2 separate regions of the Homo sapiens genome follow, and region 2 is linked to region 1. Evidence: fine-mapped expression QTL. A gene starts in region 1. The other region holds a variant in brackets. All regions are shown on one strand. Distances are from middle to middle. Region 1 holds the start of P4HTM (prolyl 4-hydroxylase, transmembrane). Region 2 has its middle 7.6 kb from the start of NICN1.

Region 1 (5,370 bases):
TCCCAAAGTGCTGGGATTAGAAGCATGAACCACCAAGCCCGGCTCATTCTCTGCTTTATAGGACAAGCTGTTTATTAGGGAGACTTTGGCTTCATGGCTTACTTAACCTAACATCAATATGAATTAGATATATACAGATCCCAGGAAGGCTGCTGAGAGAAAACAGTGCCTCCTCAGATGTGTCTGTTCATAGTAGTCGTTAGTAGTGTAGTAGTAATGGGGTGAGTATTAGTTCCTTCCTGGACCCCTCTTTCCTGACAGTCATCTGGCTTTATCCCATACTTCCCACAAGTCGTTGCTCAGATTTTTTTTTTTTTTTTTTGAGATGGAGTTTCATTCTTGTTACCCAGGCTGGATGCAATGGCACAATCTTGGCTCACCACAACCCCTGCCTCCTGGGTTCAAGCGATTCTCCTGCCTCAGCCTCCCAAGTAGCTGGGATTACAGGCATGTGCCACAACGCCCTGCTAATGTTGTATTTTTAGTAGACGGGGTTCCCCCATGTTGGTCAGGCTGGTCCCGAACAACCTGACCTCAGGTGATCCACCCGCCTCGACCTCCCAAAGTTCTGGGATTACAGGCGTGAGCCACCGCGCCCAGCCTTGCTCAAATATTTTTTTCAGGCAGGTCCACCTTGGCTACCTTATTAAGGGTTCCAGCCAGGCATGGTGGTTCACACCTGTAATCCCAGCACTTTGGGAGGCTGAGGAGGGCAGATCACCTGAGGTCATGAGATTGAGACCATCCTGGCTAACACGGTGAAAGCCCGTCTCTACTAAAAATGCAAAAAATTAGCCGGATGTGGTGGCGCATGCCTGTAATCCCAGCTACTTGGGAGGCTGAGGCAGGAGAATCACTTGAACCCGGAAGGCGGAGGTTGCAGTGAGCTGAGATCATACCATTGCATTCCAGCCTGGACAACAAGAGAGAAACTTAGTCTAAAAAAAAAAAAAAAAAAAAAGAGTTCTAATCCCAGCTGAACTTCTGCCTTACTGTCTGCTATTTTTTTTTTTCTTTGAGATAGGGGTCTCTCTCTGTTGCCCAGGCTGGAATGCAGTGGTGCGATCTTGGCTCACTGCAACCTCTGCCTCCTGGGTTCAAGTAATTCTCATGCCTCAGCCTCTTGAACAGCTGGGATTACAGGTGTACACCACCACACCCGGCTAATTTTTGTATTTTTAGTAGAGATGAGATTTCACCATGTTGGTCAGGCTGGCCTCAAATTCCTGACCTGAAGTGATCTGCCTGCCTCAGCCTCCCAAAGTGCTGGGATTATAGACATGAGCCACCACGCCCGGCCCTGTCTGCTATTTTATGTTGGCAAAAAAGAAAAAAGAAAAAAAATCTGCCTTACTTGTTTGCAATCACATATCACCATCTGACACACCAATGTATATATTTATTTGTTTGTTTATTGTCTGTTTCCTCTTCATTTGAATGTCAGCTTCAGGGTTTTGTTTCATTGTTTATATTTAGTTCAATGCTGTGTTCCTGGCACCTAAAATAGTGCCTGGCACAGACTTCAACGTTACTCAATAGTAATAGTAATAATAACAACAACCAGCTTTGGGTGCCTCTCCCACAACAGGACTGACAGCATAATCTATTTCCCTACAAACAGCATGCATATGACATCATTCTGACAGGTCTAGGCATAATCCCCAACCAGGACCCTCTGCCTTGGAGGTAATGACTTGTGCTCAGATGTTCTACTTTGGCCCCAGCTCCTAACCCATTCCATCCCCCGGCAGGCAGGAATGGCCCTGGGTTTGCAAATATGTTTGTCACGGAGGCCAGGTACCCAGGGCTGGGCTACACAAACACCCTGGACAATGTCCATGGGACTAGGGGTCCCCACCCAGTTGACACTGGTGGTCTTTGAAGGACTCTGGGGTCTTCACAGCTCGCACTGTGGCTTTACTGCATAGGCCTTAGAGGCAGGCTATGTGGGTTCTAATCCTAGCTTCACCACTGAAGTAACCGTGTCAGCCTGGCCAAGCCACAGCAGCTCTCTGTCCCTAACTTTCCCCCTCACTGGCCTGAGTAGGATCTACACCCACTTCACAGAGGGGTTGCAGGAATTAAATGAAATAATCATATGAAGGCAAGCACATAACTAGAGCTCAGAAACGATGAGCTATGTTGTGGCTCCAACTGGAGTCACCCTAGAAAGCTTTGCCCATGATGGCTGAACAAAGACTTCACCTTAAGAAGAATCTCAGAGTGCTGGCAGCAAAAGCTGAGCCTCTGACTGGTACTCCAGTGGAGGAGGCTGGGGGGGTACCAGTTTATCTACATTTGGACGGCCTGCTTCTCATCAGACCACAAGGCCCACTTCGGCAGTGGGATTTTCCCCAGAGGTCCTGAGGTCGGCAGAAAGCTGGTTATCAGTCTCCCACCTTCCTCCCAGTTCTAGAAGGTGACAGAATTAATGGTGGCACGGAAGACAGGTGCAATGAAACGTTTAGACACCAGCCTCAGGCTCACCCTGCCAGCCCTGTGATGGAAGAATGGACTGCAGGGAGTTGGGATAAGAGGGAGTGTTACCCTATTTCGAGGACGGGGAAGGTCCTTCACTTTGGTAATCCTCTGGAAGGGCTGCTCTGAAGCAGCCATTTTCAAAATAGAGGTCACGTGGTCACAACGAGCCTCAAGGTGGCCACCAAACCGCAGCCCCTGGCCCTTCCCAGGAGTATCTGGCGGACTTACCGAAGAGCAGCGGCTTGAGGCTGAGGGTTCGGATGAAGTGATCCCTGTCGGTGACCAGCTGGACCTTACGCTCGTGCCCCACCTAAGGAAAAGGCGCACAGCGGGCAGCTGGGGCGCCAGACCGCGCTGCCCAAGAAGGGCCAAGTCGCCCCGGCCCGGAGAGCGACAGCAGGCGAGTGAGTGGGAGCGCGCGGGACCGACGCAGAGCAGCGCCGGGGGCAGCGTGGGGACCCGGGCTGAGCGCCGGTCCTCTCGGGCTCAGCCGTGCAGGGCCTGGAGCGCGGCGGGGCAGGGAGGTCCTCACCTTGATGCCCTCCAGCCGGGTGAGGGGACCTAAGGTGGGCTCGGGCCCGGGGCCCTGGGCACGGTGTTGGGGCCCGGGATCGCTGCTTTCGTCGCCGTTGCTGTAGTGCACGAAGAGCAGCAGCGCCAGCACGTTACCCAGGTACAGGTGCACGAACACCATCAGCACCAGGAAGTAGGCGCGCGAGCAGATGCCGCGGGGCTTGCACAGCGGACGCACCGGTGCGTCCTCGCCGTCGCCCAGCCCGGCCGCCGCCTGAGCCTGGCAGTGGTCTGGCGGCGCCCACTGCGGCCTCGAGGCCTCCTCGGCCGCCGCGGTCTCAGGCCGCTGGCCTGTCACCGCCGCTGCCGCCATGGCACCCAGGTCGCGCGCGCGCCCAGGGGAGGGGCCGCGGGGGTGCCCGCGCTGCGCAGTCGCCCGGACAACGGCCGCCAGGCCCGCGAGCGCCGCGGTCACTAGGAGACGGTGCCTGGGGGTGCTGAGCCCGCCCGGAGCCGCCTGCGTCCGCGCCGGGCTCGGCCTTCCTGCGCCTTGAGCCCCAGCCCACGCTGGGGCTTCTCTTCCCAAGCTGGGTTGCCGTCGGGCAGAGCTGTACACTCTCCAAGTCAGAAGCCAAGGTCCCAAGCGTAGACGCGGACAAGAGCGGCACCATTAAGGCATACACTAGTGGGAGCTTCTCGGTGCCTGCGTGAAGACGCCCTCTTGCCTCCGGGAAAAGTATCGTCTGCATCTTCTTGCTCCAGGAGCGGGGGTGGGGAGCGCAGCGCGGAGGAGGCAGCGCTGAGATGACTCAACAGTGCGGCATTTGGGGGCGCCGCGGAGGCTGGGACTGCGTAAGCGGCGATAGGGTAGGACCCACAGCCTCCTCGCAGGCATTCTTGGAGCTCGGTTCCGCGGTCGGTCCGGATCTCCCGGGAAGTCTCGCCGGAGTCAGGCAGGCCTTAGGAAGAAGCTGCCTGATGTGCAAGGTTTCATAGGCCGTCAGAGGGGGCATCCTGGAGGAGCCCTGGCATCAGGAAAGTGAGCCCCCCATGGCAGCCCGCAGGAATGAACCAGTGCTCAGGTATATGGAACACTCCTTGCATCAAAGCTGGCACGTGTGAAGAGGCGGGAAGGGACTCTTCCATAACTGAGACACCATTACCTCAGAGAAAAATTAAACAGATTATCACCAAAAACGGGGGTGGGGGGAGGACATACCTACCAGTGGTCAAGTGCCAAGGCATCCCTGCTCTTCTAGAGCTGGTTATCCTCAGGAAGAGATTACTACACGCCCTCAGGGCAGAAGCTGACCCCCCTCCCCGAGGTGGACTTGCAGGCAAGAGCAACACTTTTAAGGCAGGTCACACTGGTGGTTTCTCCCTACCCTGGTTAAGACCCCCACTACCTCTACTCCCATCTCCTCTCCCTTCCCCATAGCAAAGCATAGTCTGCATTTTCTAGTCCCCTCAAGTCAAGGCAGGCCAGGGGCTCCAAGGGCAGGCCCACCTCTTTCTTCTAAGATTTTTTGTGTGTGTGTGACGGAGTCTCACTCTGTCGCCCAGGCTGGAGTGCAGTGGCGCGATCTTGGCTCACTGCAACCTCTGCCTTCCGGGTTCAAGCAATTCTCCTGCCTCAGCCTACCAAGTAGCTGGCATGCGCCACCATGGCGGGCCAATTTTTTTTTTTGTATTTTTATTTATTATTATTTAGTTTTAATTTTTTAATTATAATTTTTTTTTTTTTTTTGATACAGAGTCTCGCTCTGTCGCCAGGCTGGAGTACAGTGGTGTGATCTCAGCTCACCGAAAGCTCCGCCTCCCGGGTTCAAGCAATTCTCCTGTCTCAGCCTCCCAAGTAGCTGGGACTACAGGTGCCCGCCACAATGCCCGGCTAATTTTTATATTTTTAGTAGAGACAGGGTTTCACCATGTTGGCCAGGCTGGTCTCAAACTCGTGACCTCAGGTGTTCCACCCACCTTGGCCTCCCAAAGTGCTGGAATTACAGACATAAGGCACCACACCCAGACCAAATCTCCTAAATTCTTAAATATAATAAACCAACCAACAGAACCATAATTTTACCAAGGATCTCATGGCTTTCTCATACCTTTTCTGGAATGAAGTTGAGACTATTTCCCTCTAGCCTTTTTTTTTTTTCCCCGAGACAGAGTCTTGCTCTGTCACCCAGGCTGGAGTGCAGTGGCTTCATCTCGGCTCACTGCAACCTCTGCCTCCCGGGTTCAAGCAATTCTCCTGCCTCAGCCTCCCAAGTAGCTGGGATTACAGGCACGTGCCACCACGCCCAGCTAATTTTTATATTTTTAATAAAGATGGGGTTTCACCATGTTGGCCAAGCTGGTCTCAAACTCCTGACC
Region 2 (5,370 bases), 450 kb before region 1:
CAGCTACTTGGGAGGCTGAGGCAGGAGAATCGCTTGAACTCAGGAGGCAGAGGTTGCGGTGAGCCGAGAATGCGCCATTGCACTCCAGCCTGAGCAACAACAGTGAAACTCCGTCTCAAAAAATATATAAATATAAATATAAATAAATAAATAGGCCTGGCGTGGTGGCTCACACCTGTAATCCCAGCACTTTGGGAAGCCAAACAGGGTGGATCATGAGGTCAGGAGTTCAAGACCAGCCTGGCCAAGATGGTGAAACCCCGTCTCTACTAAAAATACAAAAATTACCTGGGTATGGTGGCAGGTGCCTGTAATCCCAGCTACTCAGGAGGCTGAGGCACGAGAATCGCTTGAACCTGGGAGGTGGAGGTTGCAGTGAGCCGAGATCGTGCCACTGCACTCCAGCCTGGGCAACAGAGTGAGACTCCAACTCAAAAATAAATAAATACATAAATAAGGCCGAGCACGGTGGCCCACGCCTGTAATCCCAGCACGTTGGGAGGCCGAGGTGGGTGGATCACTTTAGATCAGGAGTTCGAGACCAGCCTGGCCAACATGGTGAAACCCTGTCTCTACTAAAAATACAAAAACTAGCCAGGCGTGGTGGCACGTGCCTGTAATCCCAGCTTCTTTTGAGGCTGAGGCAGGAGAATTGCTTGAACCTGGAAGGCAGAAGGTGTAGTGAGCCAAGATCATGCCACTGCACTCCAGGCTGAGGGACAAGAGTGAAACTCTGACTGTAACAAAGAAAATAAATAAATAAATAAATAAATAAAGCCAGGCACGGTGGCTCACACCTGTAATTCCAGCACTTTGGGAGGCCAAGGTGAGTGGATCACTTGACATCAGGAATTTGAGACCAGCCTGGCCAACATGGTGAAACCCCGTCTCTACTAAAAATGCAAAAATTAGTCAGGTGTGGTGGCACACACCTGTAATCCCAGCTACTCAGGAGACTGAGGCAGCAGAATCTCTTGAACCTGGGAGGAGGAGGTTGCAGTGAGCTGAGATTGTGCAACTGCACTCCAGCCTGGGCGACAGAGCAAGACTCCATCTCAAAAAATAAAAATAAAAAATAAAACTATGAAAAGGACAGTGGTAGGCCGGGCACAGTGGCTCACGCCTGTAATCTCAACACTTCGGGAGGCCGAGGCGGGTGGATCACCTGAGGTCGGGAGTTTGAGACCATCCTGACCAACATGGAGAATCCCTGTATCTACTAAAAATACAAAATTAGCCAGGCGTGGTGGCGCATGCCTGTAATCCCAGCTACTAGGGAGGCTGAGGCAGGAGAATCGCCTGAACTCGGGAGGCGGAGGTTGCAGTGAGCCGAGATCGTGCCATTGCCCTCCAGCCTGGGCAACAAGAGCAAAACTCCGTCCAAGAAAAAAAAATAAAAGGGCAGTGGTAGTTATATGTATATAAACAATTTGTTTTTGGAGAGTCAGGGTCTGGCTATGTTGCCCAGGCTGGAGAGCAGTGGCTATTTACAGGTGTGATCAGGTATGTGCAATCTCTTTTGGCTGACTGGTAATTTTGAAATGAATGCCAAACATTGTAAATTTTACCTTTTCAAATGCTGGATAGCATTGTATTCCTATAGATATTTTTGAGCATTGTTCTTTAATACATTTAAACATTTGATTATTTTGAGGCTTGATTTTAATCTTTGTTAGGTAGGATCAGAGTAGATTTTAGCTTCACACAAATTTTCATCCATAATGTATGGCAATACCCTTTTTTTTTTTTCTGGAGACAGAGTATTGGTCTGTCGCCCAGGCTGGAGTGCCCTGTCACGTTCTTGGGTCACTGCAACCTCTGCCTCCTGGGTTCAAGCAGTTCTCATGTCTCAGCTTCCCAGGTAGCTGGGCTTACAGGTGTGCACCAACAATACACCTGGCTAATTTTTGTATTTTTAGTAGACATGGGGTTTCCTCATGTTGATCACGCTGGTCTCAAACTCTTGGCCTCAAGTAATCCACCTGCCTCAGCCTCCCAGAGTGCTGGCCAGCAATACCCTTTTTTTTGAGAAGGAGTTTTGCTCTTGTTGCCCAGGCTGGAGTGCAATGGCGCAATCTTGGCTCACCACAACCTCTGCCTCCCGGGTTCAAGCGATTCTCCTGCCTCAGCCTCCTGAGTAGCTGGGATTACAGGCATGTGCCACCACGCCCAGCTAATTTTGTATTTTTAGTAGAGATGGGGTTTCTCCGTGTTGGTCAGGCTGGTCTCGAACTCCCGACCTCAGGTGATCTGCTCACCTCAGCATCCCAAAGTGCTGGGTTACAGGCATGAGCCACCTCACCTGGCCTTTTTTTTTTTTTTCTGTTTTTTTTTTTGAGATGGAGTCTCACTCTGTTGCCCAGGCTGGAGTGCAGTGGCGCAATCTTGGCTTACTGCAACCTCTGCCTCCCGGGTTCTAGCGATTCTCCTGTCTCAGCCTCCTGAGTAGGTGGGACTATAGGCACGCATCACCACACCTGGCTAATTTTTTATATTTTTAGTAGAGATGAGGTTTCATCATATTAGCCAGGCTGGTCTCGAACTCCTGATCTCATGATCCGCCCCCATCGGCCTTCCACAGTGCTGGGATTACAGGCATGAGCCACCGCACCCGGCCCAGCAATACCCGTTTAAGCATGCTACACAATGCCCCATGAATTAGGAGGGCTTTAGCTATGGCTGGTGGAAACACAATTTCTGGCTCAGACTAAGAGTTGCTGATTGTTATTTTTACTCTTTTTGGGTAATTCTTTCACTGGCTTGGGTAGTTTCCTCACATACTCGTAAGATTTGGTGATAGTTATCTTATTCTTTTTTGTTTGTTTGTTT[GTTTT/T]TTGAGACGGAGTTTCACTCTTTTTGCCCAGGCTGGAGTGCAATGGCACGATCTCGGCTCACTGCAACCTCCGCCTACCAGGTTCAAGCAATTCTCCTGCCTCAGCCTCCCAAGCAGCTGGGATTACAGGCACCCACCACCATACCTGGCTAATTTTTTGTATTTTTAGTAGAGACGGGGTTTCACCATGTTGGCCAGGATGGTCTTGATCTCTTGACCTCGTGATCTGCCCACCTTGGCCTCCCAAAGTGCTGGGATTACAGGTGTGAGCCACCGGGCCTGGCCTAGTTATCTTATTCTTTTTGGGTAATTCTCTCCCTGGGGTTGGGTAGTTTCCTCACATACTTGTGCTGATTATCACTCAGCTGAAGCCTCAAGGAACCGCCTTGGAAATCGCCTGTTATCTCTCTATGGAGTTCTGTCCTCTCTAATCTCTAATCATTTTGCCTCTCCAAATTGCCACTTTGTTTCTCTTATTTTTTATTTTTCTTTTTTTAAGATGGAGTCTCCCTCTGTCACCGAGGATGGAGTGCAGTGGCGCGATCTCAGCTTACTGCAACCTCTGCCTCCCAGGTTCAAGAGATTCTCCTGCCTCAGCCTCCCAAGTAGCTGGGACTACAGGTGTGCACCACCACGCCCAGCTAATTTTTGTATTTTTTTTTTTATTTTCAAGATGGAGTTTCACTCTTGTCACCCAGGCTGGAGTGCAATGGCGTAATCTCGGCTTACTGCAACCTCTGCCTTCCGGGTTGAAGCGATTTCTCCTGCCTCAGCCTCCCAAGTACCTAGGATTACAGGCTCATGCCACCATACTGGACTTTTTTTTTTTTTTTTGAGACAGAGTTTCCCTTTTGTTGCCCAGGCTGAAGTGCAATGGCTCGATCTTGGCTCACTGCAACCTCCACCTCCTGGGTTCAAGCGATTCTCCTGCCTCAGCCTCCTGAGTAGCTGGGATTACAAGCATGGGCCACCATGCCTGGCTAATTTTTTTGTATTTTTAGTAGAGACGGGGTTTCTCCATGTTGGTCAGGCTGGTCTCAAACTCCCGACGTCAGGTGATCCGCCCGCCTTGGCCTCCCAGCATGCTGGGATTACAGGTGTAAGCCACCGCGCCCGGCCTTTTTTTGTATTTTTAGTAGAGATGGGGTTTAGCCATGTAGGCCAGGCTGGTCTCGAACTCCTGACCTCAAATAATCCGCCTGCCTTGGCCTCCCAAAGTGCTGGGATTACAGGTGTGAGCCACCTCACCTGGCCTAATTTTTGTTTTTGTTTTTTTTTTTTTGAGACGGAGTTTCGCTCTTGTTGCCCAGGCTGGAGTGCAATGGCGCGATCTTGGCTCACCGCAACCTCTGTCTCCCGGGTTCAAGCAATTCTCTTGCCTCAGCTCCAAGTAGCTGGGATTACAGGCATGCACCACCACCCCGGCTAATTTTGTATTTTTAGTAGAGACGGGGTTTCTCCATGTTAGCCAGGATGGTCTCGATCTCCTGACCTTGTGATCCGCCCGCCTCTTCCTCCCAAAGTGCTGGGATTACAGGTGTGAGCCACTGCGCCCGGCTTTATATTCTTATTTTTTGTGATCTTGGCTCACTGCAGCCTCGAACTCCTGGCCTCGGTGATTCTCCAATGTCAGCCTCCTGAGTAGCTGGAACTACCGGCATGAGCCACCATGCTCGGCTAATTTTTGTATTTTTTGTAGAGACGGAGTTTCACCATGGCTGACCTCAAACTCCTGGGCTCACACAATCATCTTGCCTCAGCCTCCCAAAGTGCTGGGATTGCAGGCATAAACCACTGTGCTCAGCCTTTTTTCTTCCTTTTTTTTTTTTTGAGACAGATTCTCACTCTGTCACCTAGGTTGGATTGTGGTGGTGTGATACAGCCGTGACTCAGGCTCAAGAGATCCTCCAGCCTCAGCCTCCTAAAGTGCTGGGATTATAGGCATGAGCCACTGTGCTTGCCTATCTGGTTCTTTTTTTTTTCTTTTGAGACGGAGTCTCACTCTGTCACACAGGCTGGAGTGCAGTGGCGTGATCTCGGCTCACTGCAACCTCTGCCTCCCAGGTTCAAGCAATTCTCCTGCTTCAGCCTCCCAAGTAGCTGGGACTACAGGTGCGTGCCACCACGCCCGGCTAATTTTTTGTATTTTTAGTAGAGGCGGAGTTTCACAGCGTTAGCCAGGATGGTCTCAATCTCCTGACCTCGTGATCCACTCGCCTTTCCTCCCAAAGTGCTAGGATTACAGGTTTGAGCCACGGTGCCCGGCCGCATTTTTGAGATGAAGTCTTGCTCTGTTGCCAGGCTGGAGTGCAGAGGCGTGATTGTTGCTCACTGCCACCTCTGCCTCCCGGGTTCAAGTGATTCTCCTGCCTCAGCTTCTCAAGTAGCTGGGACTACAAGTGTGCACCACCATACCCGGCTAATTTTTGTATTTTCAGTAGTGACAGGGTTTCACTATGTTGGCCAGGCTGATCTTGAACTCCTGATCTTGTGATCCACCCTCGTCAGCCTCCAAAAGTGCTGGGACTACAGGCTTG

Evidence for each region. PIP is the estimated chance that this variant, and not a neighbour inherited with it, causes the effect.
Region 2: its variant is the best candidate, but not a certain one, in a credible set for the expression of P4HTM in whole blood (TOPMed, PIP 0.59).

Annotation. Positions count from the first base shown.
Region 1 is chr3:48,988,254-48,993,623 of GRCh38, reverse strand. P4HTM (prolyl 4-hydroxylase, transmembrane) reads right to left here and starts at 3,383. Exons shown (of 9, transcript NM_177939.3): 1 at 3,014-3,383; 2 at 2,710-2,791. The coding sequence starts at 3,367. It overlaps LOC124909376 (a long non-coding RNA gene), which reads left to right and starts at 3,752. Exons shown (of 2, transcript XR_007095903.1): 1 at 3,752-4,076. RefSeq lists enhancers at 2,411-2,972, 3,630-3,789, 3,537-4,099, 4,100-4,663 and a silencer at 3,140-3,519.
Region 2 is chr3:49,434,216-49,439,585 of GRCh38, reverse strand. No RefSeq gene overlaps it. Among named protein-coding and RNA genes, the nearest start is that of NICN1, 7.6 kb to the right of the region's middle. The variant GTTTT/T (reference allele first, on the strand shown) is at 2,830.